Linked DNA regions of Homo sapiens: all the other regions are reported to be linked to region 6. The links are microRNA targets in miRTarBase. Many come from high-throughput screens and were not tested one by one. Region 6 holds a microRNA gene; each other region holds the end of a gene's coding sequence. Distances are between the middles of the regions.
Evidence for each region. Region 6 holds the annotated microRNA hsa-miR-526b-3p (GAAAGUGCUUCCUUUUAGAGGC, at 2,197-2,218, opposite strand). A microRNA usually pairs through its seed, bases 2 to 8, with sites in the 3' UTR of a target mRNA and lowers its output. Matches are read on the target gene's strand: a 7mer-m8 pairs with bases 2 to 8, a 7mer-A1 pairs with bases 2 to 7 and ends in A, and an 8mer does both.

Region 1 (3,121 bases), not on the chromosome of region 6:
CCCAGCACCCTCGCCCTCACCCCAGGGTTTGCTCACCTTTACTTCCCGTTTCCCATGTCTTAAACAAAGTTTCTGGAATCCTCCATCAGAGACTCAGTGTAAACAGGTTTTCAGGGAGCTCCTTTCCCAACCAGTTCTGGCTAAGAACCACTCCAGGTGAAGACTGCAGTGACTGTCCCCTTCCTGGGGTTATGTGAGTAGGGGTTATATGACAGGGACCTGCTGAGGTGCTGCTCTGGGATGCCCTCTATGCTCCTTTCTTTCATCCTATTTCAGCCCCAAATACTTCAAGAAGGTGCCAGGGGAGGGGATGCCATTGCCGGAGGACCCCACTAAGAAAGGGGATCTCTTCATCTTCTTCGACATCCAGTTCCCCACCCGCCTCACACCCCAGAAGAAGCAGATGCTGCGCCAGGCATTGCTGACATGACTGTGGTGGGCTGGAGCAGGGGTGAGAGGAGGCTAGCCGGGCCTCACCCCACCCCTACCCGCCACAGCCTCAGGGTGTGCAGGGGAGCCTGCTGCACAGATATGATACAAGGGTGGGATGGCGCAGGGCTTAAACTGACATAATAAAGATCTATTTCCTGTCCTCCAGCTACACCCACGAGAGTACATTGGAGAGGAGCTTCATATTAGCCCTTCTTGTGGGGCACAGGGAAGAAAGAGGCCTAAGGAGCTGAGTGCCTGAGTCCCTGTCCTGGCTTTGTGGGAAAGGGCAGGTAAGGGTTCAGATCCTCTGTGCTTCCACTTTGATAGAGTGGGGCAGGGCTGTGTGGCCTCTGAGGGTCTCTAGCTCTGCTCTGGCTTTTCATGACAGAAGAGACAATCTCTGGAGCATGATATGGTCACGTTAGAGACAGGAAAACTAAAGCACAAAAGAAAACATTCATTGCAGGTCACTCAGGCCTCAGTGGCAAAGCTGTCATCAGAACCTTGAAGGTGGCTGGGTGCGGTGGCTCATGCCTGGACTTTGGGAGGCCAAGGTGGGCGGATCACTTGAGGTCAGGAGTTCGAGACCAGCATGGCCAACATAGTGAAACCTCGTCTCTACTAAATACAAAAATTAGCCAGGTGTGATGGTGGGCACCTGTAATCCCAGCTACTCCAAAGGTTGAGGCAGGAGAATTGCTTGAACCTGGGAGGCAGAGTTACAGTGAGCTGAGATTGCACCACTGCACTCCAGCCTGGGCGAAAGTGAAATTCCATCTCAAAAAAACTAGAAAGGCCGGGTGTGGTGGCTTATGCTTGTAATCCCAGCACTTTGGGAGGCCGAGGCAGGTGGATCACCTGAGGTCAGGAGTTCAAGACTAGCCTGGCCAACATGGTGAAAACCCGTTTCTACTAAAAATACAAAAATTAGCTGGGCATGGTGGCGAGGGCCTGTAATCCCAGCTACTCGGCAGGCTGAGGCAGGCGAATCACTTGAATCCAGGAGGTGGAGGTTGCAGTGAGCCGAGACTGCGCCACTGCACTCCAGCCTGGGTGACAGAGCAAGACTCTGTCTCAAACAAAAAACAAAAAAAACCCCCAAAAACCTTGAAGGTCACTTCCCACAGACTCGCCCTGCGTAGAGAAGCAGCATAAAGAACACATGTGCACTGGAAACAGCTTTGGTTCTACCTCTCTGGCCTCAATCCCCTGGTCTGTGATAGGGTCCTGGGCAGGGTGATCTGGGAGGCAGGAAACCTGAGTTCTGACCCCAGCCCTGCCACTTTCTCCTGGGACCAGTCACCACACCTGTCTTGTCAGTAAAGCAGAGCCCATAACCCCCCTCACGGGCATGTTGTGAGGACAGAGAACATTGATGTGAAAGTGCTTGGTGAACTCACTGCTTAGATTCAGGAAGGGGTAACAGCACTGCTGCCCTCAAGGCCTGGAGTTCCAGCATCCAGGTCCAACTGGGCCTGCGTAGACCACACTTGCCTCCTCATAGTCAACACGTGTGTTATGCTCCCCTTCCATGCCAGGGAGGTTCCCTTCTAGAGTCTGAGCTTGGGTGAGGATAGATCCAGGCTTACGGGGAGTAGGTAGCCAATTCCATGGAATGCCTTCAGAGGTGCCAGAAAAGGCCCCATGTTCTCCAGATTGCTTGGGACTCCACCATTCAAATCACATCAGCTTAAGGTTTTTTTTTTAAAACGGGGGTTCAGTAGCACTTTTGTCATTAAAAAAATCACCATGGGCTGGGCGCGGTGGCTCATGCCTGTAATCCCAGCACTTTGGGAGGCCGAGGCGGGTGGATCACAAGGTCAGGAGTTCAAGACCAGCCTGGGCAACATGGTGAAACTTTGTCTCTACTAAAAATACAAAAATTAGCCGGGCATGGTGGCATGCACTTGTAATCCCAGCTACTTGGCAGGCTGAGGCAGGAGAATCACTTGAACCCAGGAGGCAGAGGTTGCAGTGAGCTGAGATCTTGCCACTGCACTCCAGCCTGCACGACAGAAGAGACGCCATCTTAAAATTAAAAAAAAAATCACCATGAAGTCAGCTACCCAAAGACCTTGAGGTGAAGACTCTGGGACCAGGGCTCCAGGAAGCATTTCAGCATAGTAGTTAAAAGCATGTGGGCTTTGGAGTCAGACACACCTGTTCTGGATCCCCAGTGTGCTACTAGCCAGCTGTGTGCCTTTGGGCAAATCACTTCACCTCTCTGAACCCGTTTCTTAAAGCTTACAGCCCCTACCTTGCAGGCCTTTCATGGAAACCAGATGGTGAGGCATGAAATGCTCTGGGGCAGGACTCAGGTGGAGTGGGATGGTGAGAGCTGCCCTGTTCTGAGGGCAAGCCCTGAATTGGAGTGCAGAGGCAGGGCTGTGAAATTCTTCAACTCTAGGTCTCCTGTAGGGCAGCAGGAAAGCCTACTCCTTATCTTGAAGGAAGCCTGGGTCTTGGGCCTGAAAGTCCCTTAGGAGATTCCTATTACCTTAGTGATCTTCAGTGTTACCTTGAATTAGGCAAAGCAGGGCTTATCATCTGCCCACTTAATAGGCATTAAAGGGTTGGGAACCAAAGAGAAGTGATCTACCTGTGATCAGAATGAATGAGACCCACTGGTATGTTTTCCAGTGGTTCCTACCACTGTTCCCAGCTCATTGTCCTAAGGCCACACCCAGAA
Region 2 (3,121 bases), not on the chromosome of region 6:
GGGTAGCGGTTTAGAGGGGAAGACCTTGTTATAACTAGGAAACGGTATTTAATTGTAAACAGCAGGATTCTTAAGTTTCAGCTAATATTGAAAATAAAAATAAAAGCTTTGTTATAAAATTGTTTTTGGTTAATGTTTGACACATCTTTCTTTCTTAGCTTTCAAAACAATTACAAGAGAAAGGATGGAAAGTGGGAGACCTCCTGCAGGCTGTGCTTCAATACTATGAAGTGATGGAAAAAGCTTCCAGTGAGGAGAGATGCAAGTCGCTGTTTGATTGGCTCTTGGAAAATGCATAGAGCAAACCCCAAACCAGTATATTTTAGTATTTGTTTGGGGAGGGGAACAAGCCAATAAAGATGTTTAGGATAAAATTTGAATAGTGAATATTAACATCGTAAGTCAGTTGGGAGGCAAGTAAATATAGCTTTCTGAGCGCTTTGTGTTATCACTCGGTGTATATAGTTCATACTTTTGTAATCTGTCAAAATACTACCTTCATTTATTCTTCTATACACATGTGTAGTGTGTCAAGACCCTAAGAACATGTATTTGAAGGAAGGTCTAACCAGGGGGTTTTCAGGGGCATTGTCTGACCACATTCTTTTTGTATCCAAATAGTGCTGCTAGAAACTGCACTGAAGTGGCTGAGGATAGGTTCCAGTGATAGAGTTATAATTTTGCTCCTTTGCAAACAAATGGTATCTAATTAATAACTAGTCTGACATCAGAAAATAAAATTGAGGCTGATTTTTAAAAATTTCTAGTAGATTTTTGGCCTTTCCTGTTTTTAAAAATCAGTTTCATTTTCATATTTCATAGATCAGCTATTGGTAGCTTTTTGATTTCCCCAAACTATTTAATTTCTTAGCAGAAACATTAGTATTTTAGGTTTCTATAAACACTATAAGTGATAGTTTCCCCCATCCTTTCATTGACATTATTTGCCAATGCTGCCAGTCATTCTGGCATGAAAGGTGTGTGTGTGTGTGTGTGTGTGTGTGTGTGTGTGTGTGTGTGTAAGGGAGTACTTTAACCTTGCCAGTTTGTTCCCTCTTTTATTTTACTGTTTTCTTTTTAGAAACCCACTGTTAAAATTTAAAAAGGTGCTTTAAAATAAAACGCCTATAAAGATTGTGCAGTAAGAATTTTTATTGACAATAATTAAAATTTTTTTTGACAATTTTGGGTTCCCAACTTATCTTACAAGTGAAAACTTAAATTGTAAAACATGTTGAAATTTTAAAAATTAATGTTAATATGGAAATGCATTTAGAGAAGCCCAGTAGTTTTTATTGTTGGATTTTTGAAAAAACCTCTACCAAGAATGTGGTGTTTTTTTTGTTTGTTTGTTTGTTTGTTTTAGAAAAATTGGGATTTCCCCCCACCCCGCCCCACCCAGATAAACTATATCTACACTGTCTCGTCAAGTTCTCTGACACGATCTTTCTGGGCTCTACATTTCCTACTAGTTTGTGTCCAGAAACTGCAAGTTGACATGAATAGAGGACAAAGGTTGTGTCTTGCTTTTGTCTCTCTCTTCCCTCCCTGCAACTCTCTCTCCCCTCCTCCCACTCTCTTCCCCCTCCCCCCTCCTCCCACTGTCTCTCACCTCCCCCACCCCCCACTCTCTCTCATCTCTCGCTGTGTCCTGTGTATGTGTGGGTGTGTGTGTATTTGGGTGTGTAAATGTTGGTTCTTCCACTACTGGATTTTGTAATCTAGGATAAATCACTTTTTTTGGGGACTTTGATTTTGCTCCATTACGTTTTCATTTTTTCTGAGCACTGACTGTTCTGAAAGCTGCACAAAACGTAGAAAGAAGACATAGCGCCTGCCAGGGAATAGGAAATGAGGGCACTTACACATTAATGTGAATTAGTAATTGTGGTATAGAAATGTTTTATAGTGAAAGATTCAAATTTGCTTTTCAAGAAAAATGCCAAAAGCTATTTAAATAATTCGAGGTTACATCGTAGGTTTTGATTTTTCTCAATTTAAGATACAGAAATACAGCAAGCCTTAATATAAAGTTTCCTAAAGTTTCTTCAAGTATTTTTTAAGGTGGAGAAATGCAGGAATTGTATAACCAGAATTGTTCCTGCCTTTAGCTTTTCAGAACTTGAGATGTGGCAGCACTGGACTGGGTTTTTTTAAATGTTAGGACTAGGAATGTTTGCTCTTGTTAATTATGAATTAATTGATTATTAAGTTTAGAATGCATTTTTACAAGTATCTAACTATCAAATTGTGTTTAGTAACTTGAGTGTATGCACAAGTTTGATCAACAGCAAAATAGAGTTCTGAATTTCTTTTAAAGTGATGATATATTATTTTGTGAAACTTTGTGTTTGAAAATGTTTATTTCTGTTTATGGTGTAATCATTCTGAGGTGAGGCTTTTCTTATTTCCTTTGCATTTTGCTAGAGCTGTGCTGAGTTCAGCATTTGCTTATTTAACCACTACATAATGACAGACCAGTTATTAGGTATTAGCATGTGTGGTAATAATAATAGTGGAACTTCACACTTACATCAATTCAGTGCAGGGGCATAGAATAAAATATTAAATATTGGCAGATGTATGAAAAGAAGTGTGAGTTAAAAATATTGAATATTGGCAGGTGTGAAAACAAGTGTCAAAATTCCTCATATAGAGAAAATAATTTTGAGTTTAGAGTATTATCTTTTAATTAAGTGTAGTCTAAACTTAACTTTCTGTAAAGGCACTTTGTGGTTTTTCCAAAGATGTTCTAGATCTATTTGGTTGCTCTATAGTCAAACAGCTCTTTTGAAGACAACTGTCTTATTTTATTACAAATTGGCTTGACATATTTATACTGTAACATTGTAATATTGCTGTGCTGTACATTTTGGCCCTTACGAAATACGTCTTTTTCAGAACTGTTAAAGTTTTGATGTACATCGAGCTGAATTCTGTTTTTACCAGTTTCAAAACCTTCAAGTGATATGTGGAAAAAAGTGAATGAGACCTCTGATAGGGGGTTTTCAGAACCTTGTTCACACCAAAATGTGACAGTTCTTTCATGTTTTCCTAAACCAAGTTAAAATTACATGTATATTTTGGTGTTAAGGTTGATTTTTAAGATACTTCTGATTTG
Region 3 (3,121 bases), 47 Mb from region 6:
GCAGGGCTGGGCGGGTGGCTCAGGCTTGTAATCCCAGCACTTTGGGAAGCTGAGGCAGGCAGATCACTTGAGGTCAAGAATTCCATACCAGCCTGGCGAACACGGTGAAACCCCATCTCTACTGAAAGTACAAAAATTAGCCAGGTGTGGTGGCGCACGCCTGTGATCCCAGCTACTCGGGAGGCTGAGGCAGGAGAATCCCTTGAACCTGGAGGCAGAGGTTGCAGGGAGCCAAGATCCGTGCCACTGCACTCCAGCCTGGGCGAGAGCGAGGCTCTGTCTCAAAAATAAAAAATAAAAATAATAAATTTTGCCTAAAGCAGATCTGGGCCCACCCCCACCCCCATCACAGGGTCCAGCGAGGGCACTATCTCTATGGCCGAGGGTGAAGACCTCAGTCTTATGGAAGAAGACAAAGGGGACGGCTGGACCCGGGTCAGGCGGAAAGAGGGAGGCGAGGGCTACGTGCCCACCTCCTACCTCCGAGTCACGCTCAATTGAACCCTGCCAGAGACGGGAAGAGGGGGGCTGTCGGCTGCTGCTTCTGGGCCACGGGGAGCCCCAGGACCTATGCACTTTATTTCTGACCCCGTGGCTTCGGCTGAGACCTGTGTAACCTGCTGCCCCCTCCACCCCCAACCCAGTCCTACCTGTCACACCGGACGGACCCGCTGTGCCTTCTACCATCGTTCCACCATTGATGTACATACTCATGTTTTACATCTTTTCTTTCTGCCGCTCGGCTCCGGCCATTTTGTTTTATACAAAAATGGGAAAAAAAAAAAAGAAATTATATAAAGTTCCTAGAGTCGGTGTCTTATTAGAGGATTTAAATACTGGGACTGGAAGTATCTAACACCACGTTTCTTACAGGCCACACAGGGAATGAGGAAGGGGAGGTGATCTTGGGCACACCTTGGGTCAACCCTGCCCCTTTCTGGAAGTTGGCCTATGTCATTGTCAGTGGGTGTCTGCTTGTGACTCAGGTAGGGAGAAGGATACCAAGTTTCTTTTTTTTTTCTTTTTGAGACAGTCTCACCCAGTTGCCCAGGCTGGAGTGCAGTGGCGTACGTGATCTCAGCTCACTGCAGACTCCATCTCCCGAGTTCAAGCAATTCTGCCTCAGCCTCCCAAGTAGCTGGGATTACAGGCACACACCATCATGCCCAGCTAATTTTTGTATTTTTTGTAGAGACAGGGTTTTGCCATGTTGGCCAGGCTGGTCTTGAACTCCTGACCTCAAGTGATCCATCTGCCTCGGCCTCCTAAAGTGCTGGGATTATGGCGTGAGCCACCGCACCTGGCCAGGACACCCAAGTTTCATCCCTTCTGAATGCACTGCAGCTTCTGAGAATGGGTAGCACTTATTGAAGACCTACTGTGTGCCAGGCATTCTCCACCTGGGGTCTCATTCCTGGCCACAATTCTTAGAAAGTACACAGCCTCAACTTTTACATTTTTTAAAAGTTTTTTATTTTTCAGTTTTTGTAGAGATGAGGTCTCACCATGTTGCCCTGGCTGGTCTTGAACTCCTGGCCTCAAGCCTTCCTTCCGCCTCGGCCTCCCAAAGTGCTGAGATTACAGGCCTGAGCTGCTGTATGGCTATGATTTTGTTAAAGGCCGACACAGAGGTGAAGTCAACTGCTAGAAATCACGGCTTTTAAGAGGTGGAGTCACATTTGAACTCTGGCCTCTGATGCCAGATCTGCAGGTCACATGTTCACCATGGTCCAGGTGACCCTGACTGCGGTCCCCACCTCTTCTGTGAGGCACAGGGCAGGATTCCACCTGAGGCGCGAGGAGCCTGGGACGACTCCTTTGGTCTCTTCTGGGGTTCGCAAAAACCTGGGGGTCCCGGGTGTGAAGAAGGGTGTCTGCGCTCTCAGCGGTCAGGCTCCAGGCGCTGCGACAGGACGCCGAGGACGCGCTGGAACTTCTCAAAGCGTTCAGCGCGCGGAGCTCCCGCGCCCCGGCTACCCCAGAGCAGCCTCCGCACGAAGCCGGTGGTCAGGGCCTCCCTCAGCTCCGGGTTAGGCCGGAATCCTGGAAGCAAGGTCAGGTGGGCTGGGGGCGGGGCCCAGGCGCCCGCCTCGCCCCTCCCAACCTCCCGGCACCTTCCTTTCCCCAGAGGACTTTGACCCAACAGGGGCCCGGGAGGGACCTGCCCCACCTGCGGGATGACTAGGCGGGGTCAGAGGGGAGGGGGCTTCCAGCTCTCTGCAGGAATGGGGGTGGGGTGCCTGAGGGGCTCTACCGCAGTGCAATGGGGTGGCCTGTTCCAGGTGCCAGATCCTGGAGGTCCCGCCTTAGGGGCTGTGCCTGGACGTGGGGCTGCCCCGAGGACGGGATCCCAGGTTGTCGGGGAAGGTGGGGGGATCTTGCCGGGTGGGCTGCCCTAGGATAGGACGGAGGAGTCGTTTTGGAGGGAGCAGGGCGTTCTTGGGGATCGAGATCCCTGGGGGACGGGATCGTCTTAGGTGGGAAGGGGGAGTGGGGACCCGCGGAGGTGGCTCTGGGGGCAGGACAGCCCGTTTTGAGGTGGACGGCCCTGTTCCTATCAATACCGCTGGATGCAGCGTTTGCTTGGGGTGAGAACCTTCCTGGAGTGGAGCCGTCCCAGTTTGGGTGGGGCTCCGGGAGGCGTGGCGAGAGGCTCCCCTCCTGGGACAGGCTGGGTTTGGGGGATCCGGTTAGAACCTGCAGGGTGCTCTGAAGTCTGCAGTCCAGCGCAGAGGGAACGCTCACCTCGCAGGCGCTGGGCTGCCACCTTGCGGAATTTGGGTGCGTCCCGGACCATGTGACGCGCCCCGTGCAGGGTGCGCAACAGCCGCTCACAGCTCTCGTCCAGCGGCCCCGCGACTTCCTCGCCCTCCAGTAGGCGAACCATGGGTGCCACGTGCGGCAGCGCCACCTCGCCGGGGTCGCAGGGTCCTGCGGAGGGGGAGGGTCTGATCAGGGTTTGGGGCTGTAGATGGGGCATAGGGCAGAGGTGGAACCTAGGACAAATGCAGGGGCGGGGCTTAGGACTGAGCGACAGCGGGGTCTGTGGAGAGGGGCCAGGACCACACGCCCCGTATGGAGGGCGGGGCCTATGGCGAAGGGGCGTAGCCTAGGGAAAGGG
Region 4 (3,121 bases), not on the chromosome of region 6:
CTCTCGCCAGCTCTGGGATGGTTTTACATCAGATGAGTGCAGCAGGTGTCACACCTCAGCATGACAATATGTCACAAAAGATTGGTACCCACTACTGACAGGCTCACAGTAACACTATATCAAAACGTCTTCCTTTCCTCGTGCTTCCTACATCAGTGTGTTTGCCTAGTACAACTTTAACGCAGCCTTGTAAATAAGGACCTACTTTTACCAGCCCAGGCTGTCTGTACCCACTTTGGGCCTTACAGACTCAGTACGGCTGCCGTCACTTTTTGTCAGGGGATGGGGGATGGGGTAGGAAGAGCAATTTATTTACTATCCCTGCCTCTCCAGGATCAGGAAGGGTTAGTAATCTGGGATGAGACTACAAAGTGCTGGGCACTGGGAACCCAAAGGTGCCTCCCACGCTGACCTGGGACCAGCTATAACCAGAGAACAGGAGGGAAGAAACTACAAGGACAATGGATTCATAGCTGCTTCCTAAGAAGGCATGGAGAGGCCCCTTGGGTGCAGGGAGTCAGCAACTATTTTGAGGAGATGGAGACTGTTTTTCCAGTGAGGACAGGCCAAGAGAAACCGCAGCAGGAGGGAATGGAATAGGATCACCAGAAGGACTGCCTAACCTGCCAGTGTGTCTCTGGTGTATGGTTCTGGCCGTTGTGACAGGTTGGGTGGGGACAGTGCTCTCACAGAGACAACCAATGAAGAGCATTTTGTAGGGCAGATTTCTGCATCCACAGAGGCCGAGGCAGAAAGTTAAAATACCGCATGCTGCTAGCCTTTATGAGTTCCCTTACGCCTTTTCTAAGCCTTTCTAGGGCCAGAGAACTCTGATGTGAGAATCCATGCAGCCTGGCCCTTGGGCAAGCGCCCACTTTCCCATTTTGCAAAATTCAGGGGCAAGACTTCACCTCGGAACGCAGTGCAGCTGAGCTGCGGCTGGAGAGCCCTTTACAGTGCTTCTGTCCTGCCACGCACAGCCAGTACTCCCCACCTCTCACATCCTGCCCACCTCCGCCCAGCCTCCTGGACAGATGTCCTAGAGCCACAGAGGAGAGATGCCCAGCGTCTCATCAGCGTTTCCCTCGTCCTCCCAGGGGAGCCTGTGGTGCAGGCTGGTGGGATGCTGCCTGATGGGGAGTGTAGCCCCTTGAGAAAGTATTGAGACCCTAATAACCCCACACCCTCAGGAGGCAGCTGGGGGTCCGCGGGGGGGAGAGGGGGCGGGGATGTTGCTTATAATCACAGAGCTATCATAATCACGGAACTATACCTGTAAGAGACCTTGTGTTTGAAAACGTTAGATTAAGCTTCTTTTTCTAAAATCAGTTTTAAAAACTGTTTTGTTTTTTTTTTGTTTTTTTGTTTTTTTTTTTTTTTTGCTCAGGACTATTTGCTTTCAGAGCACAAAACAGGTTACAGACAGGTGTGTGCCAGGAGTCGCAAGATTTGGCTGGATCCTCCCAGGAGGCTTGGGGGATGGGGCACAGCTTGGCTGGACCCAGGGGGGACAGGGACATTGATGTCTGACCCAAAATGATCCCTCACCTCAATGCCTTCTGCTAGGACCTATCTATCTGGCCCTCCTGTTCTCTCCACAAATGGAATTATGAGACCACCTAGGGGAAAGGGGACCTCCTATCCCCCCTCCCCCGCCCTGCCAAGAGAACAGAGAGTGGATGCGTTGAGCTGGTAAAGTGCATGGAGGAGCCGGTCTGTAGGTGCTTTCCTGGGTTTAAGAACCTGATGCCATAGACTCATCTTCTCTGGGGCCTGGGACCCGTGCGGCTGGGGGAAAGCCAACAGTTAGGAACGGAGGGGAAGCTGGGCTGGGGGGACTGGCTTGGATGTGTTCTCAAACCATCTCTGCCAGCAGCGTGCTGGGTCCTGCCCCATCTGTACAATGAGGGGAACCCCGCTCGAGGGTGGTGGGGGTGGGGGACACTTTCCAGTTCTGACTCAAATCTGTGTAAATGCAGAGGGGGCTGGACCCAGGGGATGCAGGGGCTCCAACGAAGGTGCAGGGGTCGGGAGGTTTCCCAGGGCCTGAGGCTTATCCTGTGGGCCAATGCTGCCTCTCTCTGGAAGAGAGATGGCCTCTGTCCCAGGAGACATGGGTCCCATGCAGCACTGGGCATAGCTGGAGACAGTGAGGTCCTTCCGGGGGGGTGGCAGGAGGCTGATTCCCCACAGAAGTATGGGATGAGACGGCCAGGATCTGGGCCGGGGGCAGTATCCCGGGCCGGGGTGGGGGTGGTAACCTATGCCTCTGTACAAGGATGTGGCTGCACAGATGCAGCCAGAGGCTCCCACCAGCTGGGACCACCCTGGGACCGAGACCACCCTGGAGCGCAGGTCCCATTCCCGCCCGGAGCCTCGGAGCCGGCCCATCACTGGTCTTGAAGGTTGTTAGGGTCCCCGCCTCCAGCGGGAGGAGTCCACCAGGGCGGTCAGTAGGGCCGCCACACGGCCTCATCCATGCGGCCTGGCGTGCTCAGGGCCGTGGGTGAGTTGCTGTGGCTGCCGTCGGCCTCCACGCCATCACTCTGGCCGCCCAGGCTGGGGTTCATGAGGTTGCCGGCGGCGACAGAGGCAGCGCTGCTGGTGCAAGAGGCCAGCATGCGGGTAGGTGAGCGGTCGCCCCCACTGCTGCTGCCGGCCACCATGGAGAACTGGTAGGAGCCAGAGGATGTCCCGTAGTAGAGGTGGTAGGGGGACGGGTTGGCCTGGAAGGGCCCGCTCTGGTTCTGCGGGGCCCCCGGGTAGGGTGGCGGGAGGTAGGTATGGTGGAAGCGGCTGGTGGCCGGCATGCCCGCCACGCTGAGGCTGCTGATGCTCGTGCCCGAGGGCGTGGCGCTGTAGGGGAAGGCAGCTGACATGGCCCCGGGATAATGCATCCTGGGGTCTGGGAAGCGGCTCTCCGTGAGGGTTGGCAGCGTGGGGAAGGAGCGGTCAAACTGGCGGGGGTCGGAGAATGGGTTCAGTTCCGAGGTGCCTGGAGGACAGCAGGGAAGAGGTCAGTTCCAGCTCGAGACAACCCCAGGAGGGCTTCCTGAAGAATGACCTTGGGCTCTGGTTCCCAAGGCCCATCTGGGGGACCCCTAGTTCTAGACCTGGCTCT
Region 5 (3,000 bases), not on the chromosome of region 6:
ATACTGTTGGCTGCAGCCAAGTCCTCCTGGCTTTGACACTTGGATACCTCCCAAGTCAGTGCTGAAAAGGTCCTTCAGGAGCAAGAGTTTGGAGGCTAAGGAACTCGTCTTTAAGCTGTGCTTACACAGCAAGCAGTTATTAGATTGTGTGTTTATTGGGGGCCTGGGGAAGTACTGAGCCCTAAACACATCCTCTTCTCCTTGCATGTCAGGGGAGCCCATGGGGCTCCCTGACCATCATCTGAAAACCAGTGGGACAGGGCATCCCCATTTCTCAGATGGACAAGACAGACCAGGGAGGCAGAGCTTAGTGAGGGTCTCTGCAAAGGTGCATTTATCTAAGTCAGATGGGTGACTTAAGTGCTTCTCTAGGCCTTGTGTTTGAGATTGGGAGCTGAGCCAGAAACCGGAAAACCCTGGGCTCATGGGCAGGACAGCTTCGGGAGTTGAGTGTGAGTAAAAATCTGCCTTTTCACATCTTACATTGCTAAGCTTCCTCTTGGTTTAAGAGGGGTTGCAACAAGACTCGGGGCTGTTGGGGTAACTGTTCCAGGGGGGACTTACTCCCTCTACCACTCCGCCTGCTTCAGAGTAGTTTCTCTGGCTGCAAATGGTTGAATCTGCCTGCCTAGGTCAAGCCCGAAGGGAAGACTTTTGGAAGGAAAATACTGGCAAATCCAAGAAGTGAACCAGCCGACTTTAGGAAAGCCAGAAGCCAGGCTACTCTAGACCTTCTGCCTTCAGAGCATGAGGACTTCTCCCACTCATCCCTGTACCTGAGGCACACCAACCCAGACAGGTCCAGGCATGGACTCCAGGTTCCCTATTTCCAGAAGGAATGCGATTAGCTTTTTTTGGCCCAGCACCCACCCTGCCAGGGAGGAAGGGGCAATTTTCCAGTGATGAAATTGTGAATCAGGCAGTCACACTGGACAACATCTAGCAAGGTGAATTCTGCAACTCCCTACTTTATTTACATTTTAAAATAAGCAATATATTCATACGGTTTAAAATCCAAAGTTTACAAAAGGGTATAGGGTGACATCTCCTTCCCTCCCACCTGTGCGCCCCAACCCTGCAGGTGCTGTTCTGAGGGAATCACACTGTGCTTGCACAAAAATTATTAGCTTATAAGACACCAGCCTTCCCCTTGCTTTCCTCACTTGATGTATCTTGGAGCTTGTTCCTTATTCTTGATTATAGTTGTATGGTATTGCACTATCTGGAGCTAACACCTGTGACCCACACTCATGTTTTAAAAGTTTCTGCATTAGTCAAAAATATTTAAAAGGAGATTCAACTTCACAACCCATATGTCTAGCTTCTCTTGAAAACACGTAAGAACTGGCCATGACAGCCTGTGTTTCTATGTAACTATGAGCCAGAGCCAAGGAGCGGGGGGACCAGGAGAGGTGTGCCCCTGCCATGCTGCCATTTGTTATCACCCGCCTGTCAAATCACAGGTTTATTTCAAGGCAAGAACCATGTTCATAGGTTGTATTCTAAATGGAGTGGCGTGCCCTTACTGAAGGACTAGATGAGGCAAATAAAGACTAGTTGCTGCTATTCATTCATTCAGCTAACATTTATTGAGCCCTTAATGAACACATAAGAGTTTTGACTTCACGGCAGTTCATACTGGGACCTCAGACCACTGAAGGCAGACAGTAACGAGCAGTGCTGGCCGGGCCCCACTTTCAGAGGGGGCGGAAGGGCATCTTGACACGTGTCATATGGTAAGAGGCGCATCCACTCACCCAGGCCTGGTGCAGGACTCTGCAAGGCCCTCCTGAGTAAAGAGTGGCCACGAAGGGCTGCTAGGCAGCACCTACTCTTGGAATCAAGCAGGGAAAAAGTGCAAAATTGGAGCTGGCGGGAGGTGTGTGTGCCTGCCCCACAGATGGCTGTGGTGAGCCACAAAGCACCAAGATTCTGTTCTTCATTCAGCAACCACCCATGAGCCTCCTGCTTTATTCCAATCGCATGGCACCAGCCTGAAAACCTCTCTCCCTTCTGAGAGGAATGCTGGAATGACACTCCACTCTGCCCCTCCCTCCCTCCTTCCTTGCTCAGGGTCCATGTGAACAGCAGGCCATTGTTGGGAAGTGCCTGTTGCAGTCATTCTTACACCCCCACAGCCACTGCCCCACACACCCACTGGTGGCTACCAAGGCCCGTCAATAGATCTTGTGTCCACCGAGCCCTGGTGTCCAGGTCCAGCAGCCAGACAGGCTGAAGGTTCCCTCCTGCCATCACAGAGTAGCCAAGCACTACAAAGAGGTTTTCATGGCCAGATTCCTGACGGCTGGCCCCTTACAGGGCAGATCCTGTCCTTACAGGTGTCAAGGTTGGAGGGTCCTGGGTCCTCCATGACCCTGGGGGGTTGCTGGTCCCCCATCTTGGTTCTTGAGTCTCATCCTTTCAAGATGACCTTGAGAGCTTTAAGCTCATCCTGGTTGAGGGGGTTCAAGTTAAAACCCTTCAGCTCCGGTTTGCCTAGGAGAGAAGATGATCCATCAGCACGTCGGGCCTCCTGCTGGCTCTGGAGCCAGGCCCAGGAAAGGGGCTGACGCTGCACTAATGCTGCCAAACTCAGCCTGGAGGTCTGGCAGGGATGGGCCTCCAATTCTGCAATGCACCAGATGAGGCATCACCACTGCTCCTGTGTCACCAAGAGCCTGCAAACGCGTAACTCTGCTGCCCAAAGAACCTCAGGTTTTTCCAAGACCTGTGACCAATCTAGAGTGCTTGCATTTATCAAGAATTTCAGCTCTGACCTCACTCACTCACTGAAGCCTTCTGAGTTTCCTCAGTCAGAGCTATCTGATCCCCATGCCATGCCCCGATGTATAACGTGAGATCACCCCAAGCGGTTCCTGGGACCTGGAAAAGAAACTATGACAGGACTAGGACTGTAGAAGTCCCCCTGTCCATTCTGTCCCTGGGCAGCTACAACCAACCACTGTGCACACCTCCAGGGCCACTCACAGGCTGCCCCGG
Region 6 (3,121 bases):
TGACACCCAAATTCATAATGGGTCCCATATTCAAAATTAGGAAAAAAGGCTGAGTGCAGTGGCTCATACCTGTAATCCCAGCACTTCGGGAGGCCTACGTCGGCAAATCACCTGAGGTCAGGATTCAAGAATGGCCTGGCTAACATGGTGAAACTGTGTCTAAAATACATATATATATATAGCTGGTATGGGGGTACATGTCTGCAATCCCAGCTACTTGGAAGGCTGAGGTTGCAGTGAGCTGAGATCACACCACTGCAGTCCAGCCTGGGAGACACAGAGAGGCTCTTTCTCCAAAAAAAAAAAAAAGAGAATTGCTTGAGTCCAGGAGGCAGAGGTTGCAGTGAGCCAAGATCACACTAATGTACTCCATCTCGGGTGACAGAGCAAGACTGTCTCAAATAGTCAAAGACAGAAAAAAAGAACAGGTCTCGCTCTCTTCTTGATTGTGTATGGGCTCACTTAAGGTCAGGAGTTGGAGACTGGGCTGGCCAACATGTTGAAACCCTGTCTCTACAAAAAAAAAAAAAACGAACAAACAAAAAAAACACAAAAATTAGCCGGGCGTGGTGGTGTGCGCCTGTGATCCCAGCTACTCGGGAGGATGAGGCAGGAGAATTGCTTGAACGTGGGATTGTGCCACTGACCTCCAGCCTGATGGACGGAGTAAGACTCTGTTTCAAAAATCGATGAGTAAATAAATAAATAATAAAAATACAAAAATTAGCTGGGTATGGTGGCTCATGTCTGCGATCTCAGCTACTAGGGAGGCTGACTCAGGAGAGAATGGCTTGAATCTGGGAGGTGGAGGGTACAGGGAGCGAAGTTCCTGCCACTGCACTCCAGCCTGGGTCACAGAGCAAGACTCCATCTCAAAAAAGAGGACCGCTGGGCACAATGGCCCACGCCTGTAATCCCAGCACTTTGGGAGGCTGAGGTGGGTGGATCTTGAGGTCAGTAGTTTGAGACCAGCCTGGCCAACGTGGTGAAACCCTGTCTCTACTAAAAATACAAAAATTAGCTGGAAGTGGTGGCAGGCACCTGTAGTCCCAGCTACTTGGGAGGCTGGGGCAGAAGAATTGCTTGAACTCAGGAGGTGAGCTTGCACACAAGATCGCGCCATTGCACTCTCGTCTGGGTCACAGAGCAAGACTCCGCCTCAAAAAAAAAAAAAAAAAAAAGAGGACCGTTTGAGCCTAAAAGATCTACGTTGGAAGTGCTACCCTACTCCAGCCTGGGCAAGAGAGACTCTGTCTTAGAAAAAAAAACAAAATAAAAACAGAATCCCACCATCATCCAAGTCTGATGATAAGCATGCTCTGCAAATGTATTACCAAGATCAGCATCAACTTCACTGTTGCTTTCCTCAAACAGTAAACCTCTAAAAGGATGCACTTTCTTTTCTTTCAGACAACAGAAAGCGCTTCCCTCTAGAGGGTCACAGCATGGGATCTTCTTGCTCCAGCACCCTGGGTTTTTTGTAGAAATTTTCCTTGACCAGGTTAAAATAGAGACAAAAATAAAGACCTATTTATTGGCTCTGTTTGCATGTTTTCTGGAATCCAGAACATAGACCCCTAAAAAGACCATCTCCCGTTCCTTCCTACAAAGGCTCAGCAGGTTAGCCTTGTTCATCAAGGGGAAATCCTCCTGAGTTTTGTGTCCAGAAAGAAAAAGCAATGCCTACTATGCATACCTTATATTTAACCAAGAGAATTGGGCTGGATTTCTAGAGAACAGCAGTGGATTTTCAGCCAAGTGTTCACTTGATTTCCAGCACAGGGACACACAGTCCTGATTAGAGCAGTCAAAATGGAATCTACCATGTTGAAGAATATACATTGTTGCACACACAAACATCCTCCAGGATAGACTACAAGGGAGGCCTTAAAAGCTCCTAAAGAAACCCTGTCTCTACTAAAAATACAAAATTAGCCAGGCATGGTGGCGCAGTCCTATAATCCCAGCTACTTGGGAGGCTGAGGCAGAAGAATCACTTGAACCCGGGAGGCGGAGGTTGTGGTGAGCCAAGATTGTGCCACTGCACTTCAGCCTGGGCAACAGAGACCCAGTCTTAGATAAAAAAACAAAAGAAAAACAAAACCCCAACATCATCCAAGTCTGATTATAAGCGTGCTCTGCAAAGATATTACAAAGATCAGCATCAACTACAACGTTGCTTTTCTCAGACAGTAAGCCTCTAAAAGGAAGCACTTTCTCTTCTTTCAGACAACAGAAAGTGCTTCCCTCAAGAGGGTCACAGCCTGACATCTTCTTGCTCTGATGCCGTGGATTTTTTCCTGGAATTTTCTTTGACCAAGTTAAAATAGACACAAAAATAAAGATGCATTTATTGACCCTGTATGCATGTTTTATGGAATCCAGAATATAAAACTCTATAAGGACCATCTCCAGTTCCTTGCTTCAAAGAATCAGCAGGTTAGCCTTGTTCATCAAGGGGCAATCCTCCTGAGTTTTGTCCCCAAAGAGAAAAAGCAATGCCTACTACACGTACCTTTAACCGAGAAAATTGGGCAGGATTTCTGGAGAACAGCAATGGATTTTAAGCCAAGTGTTCACTCGAGTTCCAGTACAGGACCCACAGTCACGAAGGGAGCATCCAAAATGGAGTCTACGATGTTGAAGAATATACACTGTCATATGCACAAACACTCTCCAGAGTAGATCACAGGCTAGGATGTAAAAACTACTCAATAAAATTTGAGCAGAAATACACAAGTACAAGTGGGGCCCAGTGGCTCAGACCTCTAACTCCTCGAACTTTAGGAGGCCCAGGCAGGAGGATCACCTGCCTCAGGAGCTCGAGACCAGCCCCGGCAACATGGCGAGACCCCATGTGTACAAAAATTACAGAAGTTAGCCAGGTGTGGTGGTGCATGCCTGTAGAGACTAATTCAGCAGGCTTAGGTGGGAGGTGGAGGTTGCAGTAAGCCGAGATTGCACCACCACACTCCATCTTGGGTGACAGAGGCAGATATTGTCTCAGAAAAGAACCACACACACACGCACACACACGCACACGCACACACACCCTAGGTGATATCGGAGTATTCTCTGTGTTTAGAAGAGTATTTTGTGTGTACATAATATATAAGAATAT

Region 1: miRTarBase lists DNAJB13 as a target of hsa-miR-526b-3p. The part of its 3' UTR that is shown has no 7-base or 8-base seed match.
Region 2: the mRNA of AKAP11 is a reported target of hsa-miR-526b-3p. Seed matches in the 3' UTR shown: 7mer-m8 at 2,726-2,732.
Region 3: miRTarBase lists TRIP10 as a target of hsa-miR-526b-3p. Seed matches in the 3' UTR shown: 8mer at 573-580.
Region 4: miRTarBase lists RUNX3 as a target of hsa-miR-526b-3p. Seed matches in the 3' UTR shown: 8mer at 1,694-1,701 and 7mer-m8 at 369-375.
Region 5: miRTarBase lists PDRG1 as a target of hsa-miR-526b-3p. Seed matches in the 3' UTR shown: 7mer-m8 at 1,853-1,859.

The regions. Positions count from the first base shown.
Region 1 is chr11:73,969,685-73,972,805 of GRCh38, forward strand. It overlaps DNAJB13 (DnaJ heat shock protein family (Hsp40) member B13), which reads left to right. Exons shown (of 8, transcript NM_153614.4): 8 at 277-597. The coding sequence ends at 430. Among named protein-coding and RNA genes, the nearest start is that of UCP2, 12 kb to the right of the region's middle. RefSeq lists an enhancer at 602-761.
Region 2 is chr13:42,318,930-42,322,050 of GRCh38, forward strand. It overlaps AKAP11 (A-kinase anchoring protein 11), which reads left to right. Exons shown (of 13, transcript NM_016248.4): 13 at 159-3,121. The coding sequence ends at 299. Among named protein-coding and RNA genes, the nearest start is that of AKAP11, 48 kb to the left of the region's middle.
Region 3 is chr19:6,750,711-6,753,831 of GRCh38, forward strand. TRIP10 (thyroid hormone receptor interactor 10) reads left to right here. Exons shown (of 15, transcript NM_001288962.2): 15 at 353-820. The coding sequence ends at 501. It overlaps SH2D3A (SH2 domain containing 3A), which reads right to left. Exons shown (of 10, transcript NM_005490.3): 9 at 2,746-2,931; 10 at 1,450-2,043. The coding sequence ends at 1,883. Among named protein-coding and RNA genes, the nearest start is that of TRIP10, 13 kb to the left of the region's middle. RefSeq lists silencers at 2,690-2,869, 3,040-3,121.
Region 4 is chr1:24,899,672-24,902,792 of GRCh38, forward strand. RUNX3 (RUNX family transcription factor 3) reads right to left here. Exons shown (of 5, transcript NM_004350.3): 5 at 1-2,995. The coding sequence ends at 2,451. Among named protein-coding and RNA genes, the nearest start is that of MIR6731, 18 kb to the right of the region's middle. RefSeq lists enhancers at 910-959, 1,727-2,176, 2,507-2,576, 2,657-2,726.
Region 5 is chr20:31,943,394-31,946,393 of GRCh38, forward strand. It overlaps PDRG1 (p53 and DNA damage regulated 1), which reads right to left. Exons shown (of 5, transcript NM_030815.3): 5 at 944-2,496. The coding sequence ends at 2,414. TTLL9 (tubulin tyrosine ligase like 9) reads left to right here. Exons shown (of 15, transcript NM_001008409.5): 15 at 1-1,607. Among named protein-coding and RNA genes, the nearest start is that of PDRG1, 7.2 kb to the right of the region's middle.
Region 6 is chr19:53,693,540-53,696,660 of GRCh38, reverse strand. It overlaps MIR526B (microRNA 526b), which reads right to left and starts at 2,268; the gene lies at 2,186-2,268. MIR519B (microRNA 519b) reads right to left here and starts at 1,448; the gene lies at 1,368-1,448. LOC107985342 (a long non-coding RNA gene) reads right to left here. Exons shown (of 3, transcript XR_007067332.1): 3 at 2,039-2,632.